Linked DNA regions of Homo sapiens: region 1 is reported to be linked to region 2. Evidence: microRNA targets listed by miRTarBase, many of them from high-throughput screens and not tested one by one. Region 2 holds a microRNA gene; the other region holds the end of a gene's coding sequence.
Evidence for each region. Region 2 holds the annotated microRNA hsa-miR-5000-3p (UCAGGACACUUCUGAACUUGGA, at 3,722-3,743, shown strand). A microRNA usually pairs through its seed, bases 2 to 8, with sites in the 3' UTR of a target mRNA and lowers its output. Matches are read on the target gene's strand: a 7mer-m8 pairs with bases 2 to 8, a 7mer-A1 pairs with bases 2 to 7 and ends in A, and an 8mer does both.

Region 1 (5,376 bases), not on the chromosome of region 2:
CTCTTGATGCCTCACACTGGGATCCCCTGGATGGAAGAGCCTGTCCTACTGGAGATAATGCCTGGCAAGTAGGTGTTCCATAAATGGTGGGCTGGGTAAGCTAATGACTAGAGCGTATCCTTTACACCATTTCTGTCCTCTGAAAATGCAACATTCATGGCCCTCAAAGTGTGACATGAGTACACTGCATGCAGCGCTGTGATATTATAGTGATGTGAGCATGGGCTCCGGTGCCAAATACCCACATAGCATCCTGCCCTCACTGGCTGCCTCACTCCCTGCAAGTGCCTCAACTCTGGGGCTGTGCTTTGTCATCTGTCCTGTGGGAAGCCTAATGTCACCTGGCAGTGTTGCTGGGAGGATTTGGCGTGTGCATGCAGGGCAGGGGGTGGCAAGTGCTCGGTGAGTGCTGGCTGCCGCCATCATCCTGACTGGTACCAGGCTCGGCTCAGCACCCTGGTGTACAGGTTCGTCAAGTCAAGCATCTGTCTCTCATGTCTCCTGGCATGGCAGCTATGTCTCTAGGCAAACATACCCAGAAGAGTTTGATGTGAACCAAGTGCTGTTGTTTCCCTCGATTTGATGTGTCACAAGGAAAAGATATTCTAGAACCTGAAGCCCACCCCCACCCACCACCAGTGTGCAGCTGAACCAATGAACCCACGTGCTGACCCCGAGGCTCCCCATCCCCATGGCCACTGCCACAGCCACCACCAGGCCTGGGCCCAGAAAAGTGCTCTACTCCTCAGTCCCTTGTCTCCTTTTACCACAGACCCTGCCCCTTGTCTCCTTTTACCACAGTGGACAGACATTTATCAAAAGCTCACTGAAAGAAGGGAAAGAGGAAATAATTATAGAAAAACACGTCTCTACCAGGCATTTTGGGCCAGCTGCTGCTGGTTTACTAAACTGGTGAGCTTTTTAACCAGCTGTGGCCTGAGTGCAGGGGCTTGGGATTTATGAAACCATTGGGTTAAGACCCAATGCCCAGATAGCATAGAGATTTAGCTGTCTTGGAGTGGGGTCATCAAGCCAGCTTGTCACATGCGGCAGGGGCAGGATGCGCATCTGGGCAGGCGGGCTCTGGAGTCTTTGCTTGGAAACTGCTGTGTTCTGCTTGAGAAGCTTTATGGGAATAAAAACGTCTCCTGCACAAAAGCTGGGGGATGCTATGTAAGGTAATCATGTTTGGCATTTTTCAGGACTTCTCAAAGACCGCTGTGCATTCCTATGAACCTGCCTGCAGCTCTCTCCCTGTCATTTGGGTCATTCGCAGCAGTGTACAGACATGCTCAAGAGTTCCCATCTTTCAAAAGCTTTCTCTTTCCCCTTCCATTATCAAAATGGAAGTCAATTCATGTGAGTTAATGTAAAGCTCTCAAATGCTTTCCTATTTCCCTTAGAATAAAAATAACCTCTCACCATGGGCGATAGGCCCTCAGAGTATCTGGCCCCTGCTAGGCTTTTCATGACCCCATCCTACCCTACCCCACTTCTTCACAGACTGCAACACATTGTGAGACCCCTGTGCTCAAGTGTTGCGGGGCTTGCTTTGGGAGACAGAAGTAGTAGCAATGTGGCTGGTAGAAAAGGATGGCAATCCTGGTGCAAGTGGGGGTTCTTGGTGGAGGCAGGAGTAAGGAGACACAGCAGCAGTGTGTGGCAATGTCACAGCTGCTTAGCTAGGAACTCAAGACACCCGTGAGAGAATTACTTAGGATACTGGGAGGGCTCTGCAGGGGCCTGGGGTTCTGCATCAAAAGGAGAAGGAGAGAGTCCGGGAAATGTTGTTACTGACTCCATTTTTACCCACAGACCAGGGAAACATGGATATATGGGTTCCATTCCGAAATTCCTTCAGGAATAAGATTCATTCCTGGTCCATCACTCAAAAGCCAATTAAGACAAGGAATCTTCCTTTTCTTTCTATTTCTGTTTCTCACACACACATACCCATAAAATTGTATTTTAACTTTAAAGAACATGTGCATTCATTTGTTATTCTTTTAACATAAGACAACTCTTTGTTTTTTTAGTGAGACATTCACAATTTCCAGTATTTCTTTAAAGTCAAACACAAGTTTTACGACACTGTTGAAGTATTCTGAGAGCAGAATCCCAGATTCTTCCCATTTCTCGCTATTGCATGTTTCACTCATCCATGCTTAATTTGACAATATTTTTTAGCAACGTGCCTCTACTGAGTCTGTCTAAAGCATTCTAGGGTTTCGATGAATCAATTCCCTACCTTTTCATGTTCATAATTCATGTAATTCATGAGTCTACTTCATATTAAATGATGTAATTACAATAACAAGTACAATGGGAATCTGTCAGTTTGGGACCAGGTTCAGCAAATGTAACTCAATTGAGAGAAGTGGGTAGTGGTGGGGATACTAGAGCCCCCGCGACAGGTCAGCCTCTGTCACTCAGTGTGCCTGACAGTCAAGTCAGATGTTTTACAGATAAGATGCCCAGTGCTGGTTACACAGAGATTGGAGAACAGAACTGAATAATCATGCCAATTCATTTTGAGATAAGAATGCCATTTGCAGATCCTACTTAGCCAACAGGTGGCAGATGTGGCTCAGGCATTCATGAGCTCCTATCCCTACTGGGGACTCAGCAGGAGCCTAAGCCTTTGCCAGGATTAATGGTTGAGACAGACAGACAAGCTTCCTTTCATCATGGGAAACCCATTTCAGTCTCCTCTGCTCCTTTGATAGCCTGGTGGCATTTTCTCTCCAGGTCAAAAATCAGCAGAATTCCATAGCTGTGGCGAGAAAACTCAACAGGGTCATCAGGACGCACTGCTGTTCCCACCCAATTTCTCCAAGCCTCCGTTTCTCCTCTGAATATGGATAATAGGGCCAATTTTCTACTTCACTGCATTGCTGTGAGGACTCAAAGTCACCTCCTATTCTCTTCTCTCTCCTTGAGTAGAGGGGAGGGTAGCATCTCAACACCAGGGAAAAATCCCATCACCCAGACGGCTGGCTCGCGTGTCAGTGGCCGAGCAAAGACAGACGCCACTCTCCCCAGCCCCTCCTGAGCTCCGGCATCCAGACCTTGATGCTGCTGAGGGCCCTGAGCAGGTGCCCGCCTCCTGGTGGACGAGCCCCTGGTAGCTGCCTGGAGACAATGGGTAGCTGGCCACACTGTGGGAGCTGCCCTGCCTGCCTCACCCTGCGGGCCTGCCTTCCTGGCAGGAAGCCAGCATTTCCTGGGAGCACTGAGCCCCTGGCATTTAAAGCATCAGATGTGGGCAACATTTATACCTGACTCTAGATGGAGCTCGTTGGGCCTGAGTGACATTTCTAGAGGCTGTGGTCAGAAACTGGGCGCTCTGGTGACCACTGCTCCCTGAACAAACCCCTGCAGGTTACTGCTCAGGGGCAGCAAGGGGCCAGCCACACATCAGGACACCGTGAGGGGAGCAGGTGAAGACAGTGGTCTGACACTGCTGGTCCCAGAGGCGCTGCTGTGCTGCCTCCTGAAGCACAGTCCAGGAGCTCCAGCTGGGCCTGGCCTGGGTGCCCTGTGGGTGGGAAAGGCTTTCTGGAGGGATTTGCCCTAATGGAGCCTTCAAGTCTGTGGATAAGCCAGAGTAGGGGGGTGAACAGCAGGGAAGCGGGGGCTGGAAGGGAGCTGGGCAGGCGCCCAGAGTGAGGCATAGGCACCTGGAGTACGGTGAACAGACGTTTCCCATGGCCTTGGCTCAGCCCTCCTGTAGAGTGGCCACACTTGCCCACACCTCGCCCAAGCACAGCATCTGTGCTGGGTGCCCACTCAGGCTCTGGCCCTGGAGCAGAGCTAGGGCCATGGTGGAAAGCCCAGGGGACCTCCCAAGACAGAAACTAGCTGCAGAGGTCCAGATGGCTACGGGGCGGGGGGGAGTAAAGAAAGGCATCCCACCTGGAACATGCAGACGAGACAGCTGAAAGCACAAGGCTGTTGCCCCTTGGGGGGCTTCACGTCCCACTTCACAATGCCTGTGCTATTCCACCCAGGGGCATACCTCAGGGGGCTCCTAGCCCTTGGAGAAACAGGAGTGGTCCTGTATTGTGTCCTGTATTGCGAGGCATGAAAAATGAGCCAGGTAACAAGGCACCATGCTTTGTGAGCACATTTAATAAAGAAAGCTGACTGTTCCCGGTGGCTGCCTGGATCCTGGGCGCCCTCCATTTCTGTGGCCATGAAGGATATTTCCTGGGTAAGGGCTAAGCGCTACTCTTGGTACCGTCCCCTTCTGACCCTCACCAGGAACTGCATGGTTGGAGCAGCATCTGATCCCACCTGGAGTGTGTGGGGTCCCAAAAGTCCCCACAGTCCCCACAGAGGTATCAGGATCTCTCTCTCTCCAGCTGGCTCCAGAGCGCCTGGCTGCTCCAGAGATACAGACGCTTCTAACTCCATACAAGGCTGGAGACCAGCAGACGTGGTACAGAAGTGAGCTCTGCCATTCCTTTTACTTTGGGGCCCTGGCACCTTTTGCCCCAACAGTCAAGCTTCCTAGGGTCGAAAAAAACTCCTCCATTTCCCTCTGCAACAGCTGGTTCCTCCTCTCCGCATCCTCCCGCGCCCGTTCAGAGTTCCGCAGCTTTATTTCCAGCATGATGTATTTTTTCTTTTCCTGGTCCAGTTCTTCTTCTAACCGGGACATTCGTTTTCTCAGGTCAGCACTCCCTTCTTCGATTCTGAAAAGTCAAGGAGAGATGCTGTTTGAGACTCTGCGGGCCAGGTTCACTGTCCCATGGGTATACCATGCTTGTGCTCACTGTGGGTTGAGGGGTCAGGCCAAGCCATGGCGGCAGGAGGAAACCCTGGCTCATCTGCTCCTCACAAGAACCCCAGTACTTCACCCATGAGCAAATTGCCCCCTGCCATAGCTCCCCTAGCTCCTCTGGGCCTGTGATCCCGAAATGCCAACACAATGATCCATGCCTTCGGTGCCTCCCTGGGTCCGCATTTGCCCCTCCAGTGCAGTATGGGATCCCTGCCAGCTGGTAGGAACAGTACAGGCCCCTGCATGGGGAGGGTTGGGACTCGGACTGTCCCCTGGCCTTTGCTCCTGTGCTGTGGCCTCCCCTCCCACAGCTCCCTGCAGCTCCCCACACTGTCCCCATGATCCAGCCACACGTGGTGACCCACAGAAGATCCTGTGGGGTAGTCACTTCCCTTCCTGCTCTCCCGTCATGTTCAGCTCAAGCGCCCCCTCCATGATGCTACTTCCTGTGATCCTCCCCAGCAGGTCACAATGGTGCTCCTCTGTGCCACCAGAGCCTATACCACACGCTTCCATGCAGGCTCATGCTGCAGTGTGCCAAGGTTGGCATGGCCATCTTTTTGACCAGACAACCAGCTTCTGTCTTTCCG
Region 2 (5,376 bases):
ACTACTATGGATATATAGGTTCAACAATATATACTCTTAAAATTTGTTTCACTCATTTGTACGTTAAGAAATGTGGCTACTAGAAAATTAAAAATTCCACTTGCATCTTGCATTTGTAGTTTGCATGTTATTTATATTGACAGTGCTGGTCTAGAATGTTGAAGTAAGATGACCTGGTAACAGATCCAGTAGAAGATATCCCAGTAGTTCTTCCCCAAAGACTACCAGTGATAAACTTCTGCAAACCTCCCTTTGCAAAAAGTGCTTTTCTCTCTGGAGTGTTTGGAAGACACCATTAATAGATGGTTGCAAACAACAATCATCATTCACCATGCACATTTGACAGAACTTACTATTAAGAAAGGCTGTAGAAGTGTAAACTTGAAACTAATTAAAACCCTTGCCTAAGGAAGCCCCACCAACCCAAGCAACTTTAAGCAGAAATCTGTGATTAAACGCCGTGTTGTGCTAGTTAACATTTCCCCAGCTGTATCTCCACATTGTCAGTGACTCCCCTCACCTCTTGCCATTTGAAACAGTAAATAATTGGGTTTCTGTTCACTTCCTTGCCTTCTTAATCACTTTTCCCCTGCTGAAGTCCAGTCATTTAGACATAACTGGTCTATCCCCTTGGAAAATTTGAAATGTTTTTGATATTGAGACTTAAACATCTGTCACAGCTGTAGCAGGTTCAGGAGTCTCATTGCCTCTTTGCTGTTAGTGGTATTTGGCAAAGTGCTACATAGCATTACATAAAGAACTACTCACTGATGATGAACTCAGCCTCCAGTGGCAGGCATGAAGGGATTGTTTTTGGAATCCTTCTAAGGAAAGCTCTCCTTTGTGGTGGAATGAACTTCCCTCATCTGTAGTCCCCCCATGTCTCGGTCCTCATTTCTCTAGCTGACGTCTACCTTGCAGCTGGATCTTGTTAGCTGAAAACTACAACCTATTTCTTTTGAGTTAAAGACTCAAACCATCCATGTAGCCAGTGATGCTTTGCCTGACCTGCTCCTGCTCCTTCTGTGGCCGCACTCAGCCCACTCTCCTCTGCACCCTGCTCCAGCCACATTGGCTAGCCCTGGCTCTTGTCCTTGATCAGGTCCTGCTGTCCACCCTTATGTCCTGGCCCTGCAGTGCTCTTTGCCTGGAATACACCCTCCTTCCTTCCCTCTCCACGCAGCTAACTCCTCAAAGCTTAGCTCCTGAAATCTCCAGCCTTTTTATTTGCTGTCATGAGGGCCTGAACTTTTCTATCAAAGTGCTTATCACAGCTAATGATATATAGTCAACATGGTTATATAATTATATAAAGTATGTGCTTACTACTTGGTTTTAAGTAGCTAGAGGGATAATGTTTGTTTTGTTCACTGTTGTATCCCAGGGTTAGAGACTCAATAAATATTCACTGAATGAGTGTATAAATGTGTTTGTTATGTTCCTCCTGCAGACTGCTGGAGGCTTCCTGCAGGTGCTGTCTGCATGGCAGGGGGCATTTCTCTGTCCTCTCCTCCTTCTAGCAGGTGGAGGAGACCCCTGTGCTTTAGACCACAATCACCATGTGTGGGGTGATGGGGGTTTAGGCGGATCGGTGACAAGGAAGGGGGATGGTATCCCCTTCGCCCCTGAATCTTGAATCATTCTTCCCTTCTTTATTCCCGTGGCTTGGGTTGATTCTCCTCACTCCCTGCAATTTCCTTCTCTCTAATTTCACATCTTCTCCCTCTTCCCCACAGCTCATCTGCTTTAGCTGCGTGTGGTTGTCTTCCTTCCCTTTCCACATGCTGCCCCCACCCTCCTGTGAGTTTGACAGTTTCCCACAGAGAGCATCAAGCTCTCTTGGGATGCATGTAGGCACTTTTCCATCTGATTATAGTGGTTTCTAGTTTTAACGCACCCTAACTGAATCACACAGGTTCAATTAACTTCACCATATGTGCTGCCCTTTGGCCTAGAACACAGGGCTGCAAGGCAGGTACAGAGCTCTAAATTAGTCCACTGGTAGAGAATTCTTCATCTCCTGGAGATCATAGCTGTCATGACCTTATATAGTAGGTACAGAATGACTTGCCTTTTGCATAAATGAGAACTTTCTTTCATTGGTAAAATCTTCTAGCTCTCCCTTCAAAGATATACCAAGAAGAATAGCACTTCTCACCACCTCCACTGGCAGCCCCTGCCCTCACCTCCTCCAGGACTCTGCTCAAACTTGATCTGATAAATGTGTGGACCTAATGTCTTTCTCTTAACTTTTCATTGGACTCCTCCTGGGTTTTACTCTGAAAACAGAAAGACAAACCATTGAGATTACGTTAAACATGAGCGGGTTAAGAGCACCCTTTCGGGAGTCATCACTCTTGCTTGAAAGTATCTGATGACTTAAAAGAGACCTTAGAGACTAAGGCAATGGTTTCAAACTTTAAAAAAATAAGTGGAGCCCTTTCATTAAGTGAAATCATATGTAGAAGACTTTACTTCTGCATGTTTTAGAGAAATGAGATGTTTGGCCATGTGGACACATTGCTGAGTCACATGGTGCGCTGGTGGCAGAGGCTGTCAGTACCTTAGGTGAGAGGTGAGGAAAGTGAGGCTGAGAGAGTTTAAATTCTTAATGTAGACACTGGGAGCAGTGAAGGGGAATCTGGGCTTGAAGGTCTTGGCTTTGTCACCACTACCACCCCATGTCCTCTCAACCCAGCCAAACCATAGTACATTACAAAGGTTTTACAAATCTCAAACAAACAAATTTCTGGAAAGCACCACCTAGACTAAAATAAATGCACCAGCAGCTCATTACCATCTTAATCTTCATCAAAATCATCATCATCACCATTCAACTAATTGCCTGTATTTCATTGTTTTGCCAATAAGAAGAGTGTTAGGACTTACCACATACATTTGCTAAAACAAATATACTCCCCACCTCCTTCAAGTCTGCTCAAAGGTCACTTCTCAATGACATGACCATCTTGCTGGGGTGTGCAGTTCCCTGCTGTGCCCTCCCCTGAATGTCCATCCTCCTATCCTGTTCTGCTTTTTCTTTTCTTTCCATAGCACTTTTCACTTTCTAACATATGATATAATTTACTTTGTAAACCAAAAATAAAATTCTAAGGCCCCCCAACCATCTAAACAGACTTCCTCCTCAGCCAGGGCTCTTAAAATTTAATCTGAAAGACTGGTTCAGGCCATGAAGGGAAGTGGGGTCGAACAGGCCTCATCATACCTGTATGGGGCATTAACATCAACACGGACTTTAAACATTTCACAGCCTGTTCTCTCTGAAGCCTGCTAGCTAAAAGCTTCACCTGCATGACAAAACTTTGGTCTCCACAACCTCTTATTGCACCAAACATTCCTTTCTATTGATCCCAAGTCTTTAGACAAACTCAACCAATTGTCAAGCAAAAAATGTTTAAATTTACCTATAGCCTGGAAACTGTAGGTAAGAAACTAAGTGCAAGTTTCTCACATAATGAGCAACAAATGTCAGCTAGTAGTTGTTATCCCATCCCCAATCACCACTCTTTTAATCTGTATGCTCTCTTACACCTTTTGAGAATTAGGACAAAAATTTCTCAAGGAAGAGTGGTGACCGTTCCCCATCAGACCCATAGTGTCACCAAGAATGTATCCCTTATGATCCCAAAGTCATCCTCTCTGAAGAGTAGAGTGTGTGGTCCCAGTTCAGAAGTGTTCCTGAGTAACTTGTGCTTATAACTCAGGACACTTCTGAACTTGGACCATACAGGTCTCCCTGCTTCTGTTATCTCTCAGACTGGTCTGTTCTTAGTCACACTGTGGAAACGGGGCCACCTAGCTAAGCTTCCAGCACTTCTCACCTTATCTGAAAAGGCAGCCACTCTCTGTCCATTAGCATTCTACTCTTCCTTCAAGTTCTAATCAAGATATAACCTTCATTCTTGGCTCGGTTTGCATCAATTCTACCTCCTTCTGATTGCTCATGGAGTAAATTTTTTATCTCACACATTATAGTGCTTCACAGAACTCCTTCCTGCAGTCCTCAATTTCTTATGGGCTCGTAGGTGCAAAAAAAAAAAAAAAAAAAAAAAAATCTCCCCTGAATTTCCGCTCCTAACTCTACCATAACTCATGGTGAACTCGGGAAATTACTCAACCATTCTGGATCTCCTTTACTCCATTTTATAGATAAGGAGTTGAATTGGGTGATGTTCAAGACCTCCTCAGATTTCACATTCTAGGAGATTACAGGCAGTTTAACAGCATGGTTCATGACCAATAATAACATGACATTTCTCATTCACAAGGGCCTGGTAGACCCTTCAACTTTGTCAGTTCCAATCTTTTCCATAATCCTATAAGGGAGGTACTATAATACCCATTTTAAAGATGAGAAAAACTAACGTTCATAACTGTTATAAAACCCAACTTGCTTAAGTGAGTCTGTTATTGCAACAGGGCTGGGATTCTACCCTGAGTCACAGCCTGTGTTCCTTTCTCCTTTCTGATCTGTCCTGTGTCTTCTACTTTTTCATATCACTCTTAGCCATGACTGACAGACCTAGGCACAACAAATGACCTGACGTGAACTCTAGAAGTGGGTTCCAAAACTTAAGAAGAGGGATTCACTCACATTCTCTTGGTTGGCTCTGTGACTTATCTGCTGTATGGGCAGTGCCGTGCACTCTTGGGGCTCCTTGATGCTGGAAGTTGGGCAAAAGGAAGCCCACATGGGGAAGAAGCAGTTCTTCCCCTCACTAATGTACGGCTGTGGACAGGTTATGTAAGTTCTGTAAGCCTCAGTTTACAAACAGTCTTCATCTATTAAATAAGGACAACGATATCTATCTCCAAAGATTGTGAGGAGAACTTTATATGAGGAAATGGGCATAACATCAGTGTGAGGTGTTTGTTTTTGTTTCAAACAAATCTGAATGCAGAACTCAGCATGCTATTTAGTTCTCTCAAAAGCACATACACACACTAGTGAGCAGCAGAGGGTGATGATCTTGTAGGGTGACGTAAGAGAGGGTTTATATCACATACACTGTAGCAAACAACTTAATATTCACATTCTGAGTTGCCTTTCCTCACACGGTGCTAAGCCTCACTGGTTCCTACCTCCCATCCCTCCCCCAATTTTAAAAACCTCCCTGCTTGATTATGCAGAATGCAACACCACCAGCTTTAATTTCCAAACTCATGACCCTTAATGCATTGTGGTGCTCAGAAAACCAAGTCCCTGCCAGTTAATAGGACTTACTCTCTTTGGGCAGTCTTTGGGGTTAAAAAAAAAGATTTTATTTCCTTGTACATTATCATCATCATTTTCATCAACAAAAACTTTACCTGGTAACTTAGAAGAATGATTCAGAGAGATGCTAGAAAATGGGA

Region 1: the mRNA of ARHGAP22 is a reported target of hsa-miR-5000-3p. The part of its 3' UTR that is shown has no 7-base or 8-base seed match.

What each region holds. Positions count from the first base shown.
Region 1 is chr10:48,441,923-48,447,298 of GRCh38, forward strand. ARHGAP22 (Rho GTPase activating protein 22) reads right to left here. Exons shown (of 10, transcript NM_021226.4): 10 at 4,114-4,697. The coding sequence ends at 4,469. Among named protein-coding and RNA genes, the nearest start is that of ARHGAP22-IT1, 67 kb to the right of the region's middle. RefSeq lists a silencer at 2,404-2,698 and an enhancer at 3,246-4,147.
Region 2 is chr2:75,087,152-75,092,527 of GRCh38, forward strand. It overlaps MIR5000 (microRNA 5000), which reads left to right and starts at 3,661; the gene lies at 3,661-3,763. All of the region lies in intron 2 of TACR1 (tachykinin receptor 1), which reads right to left.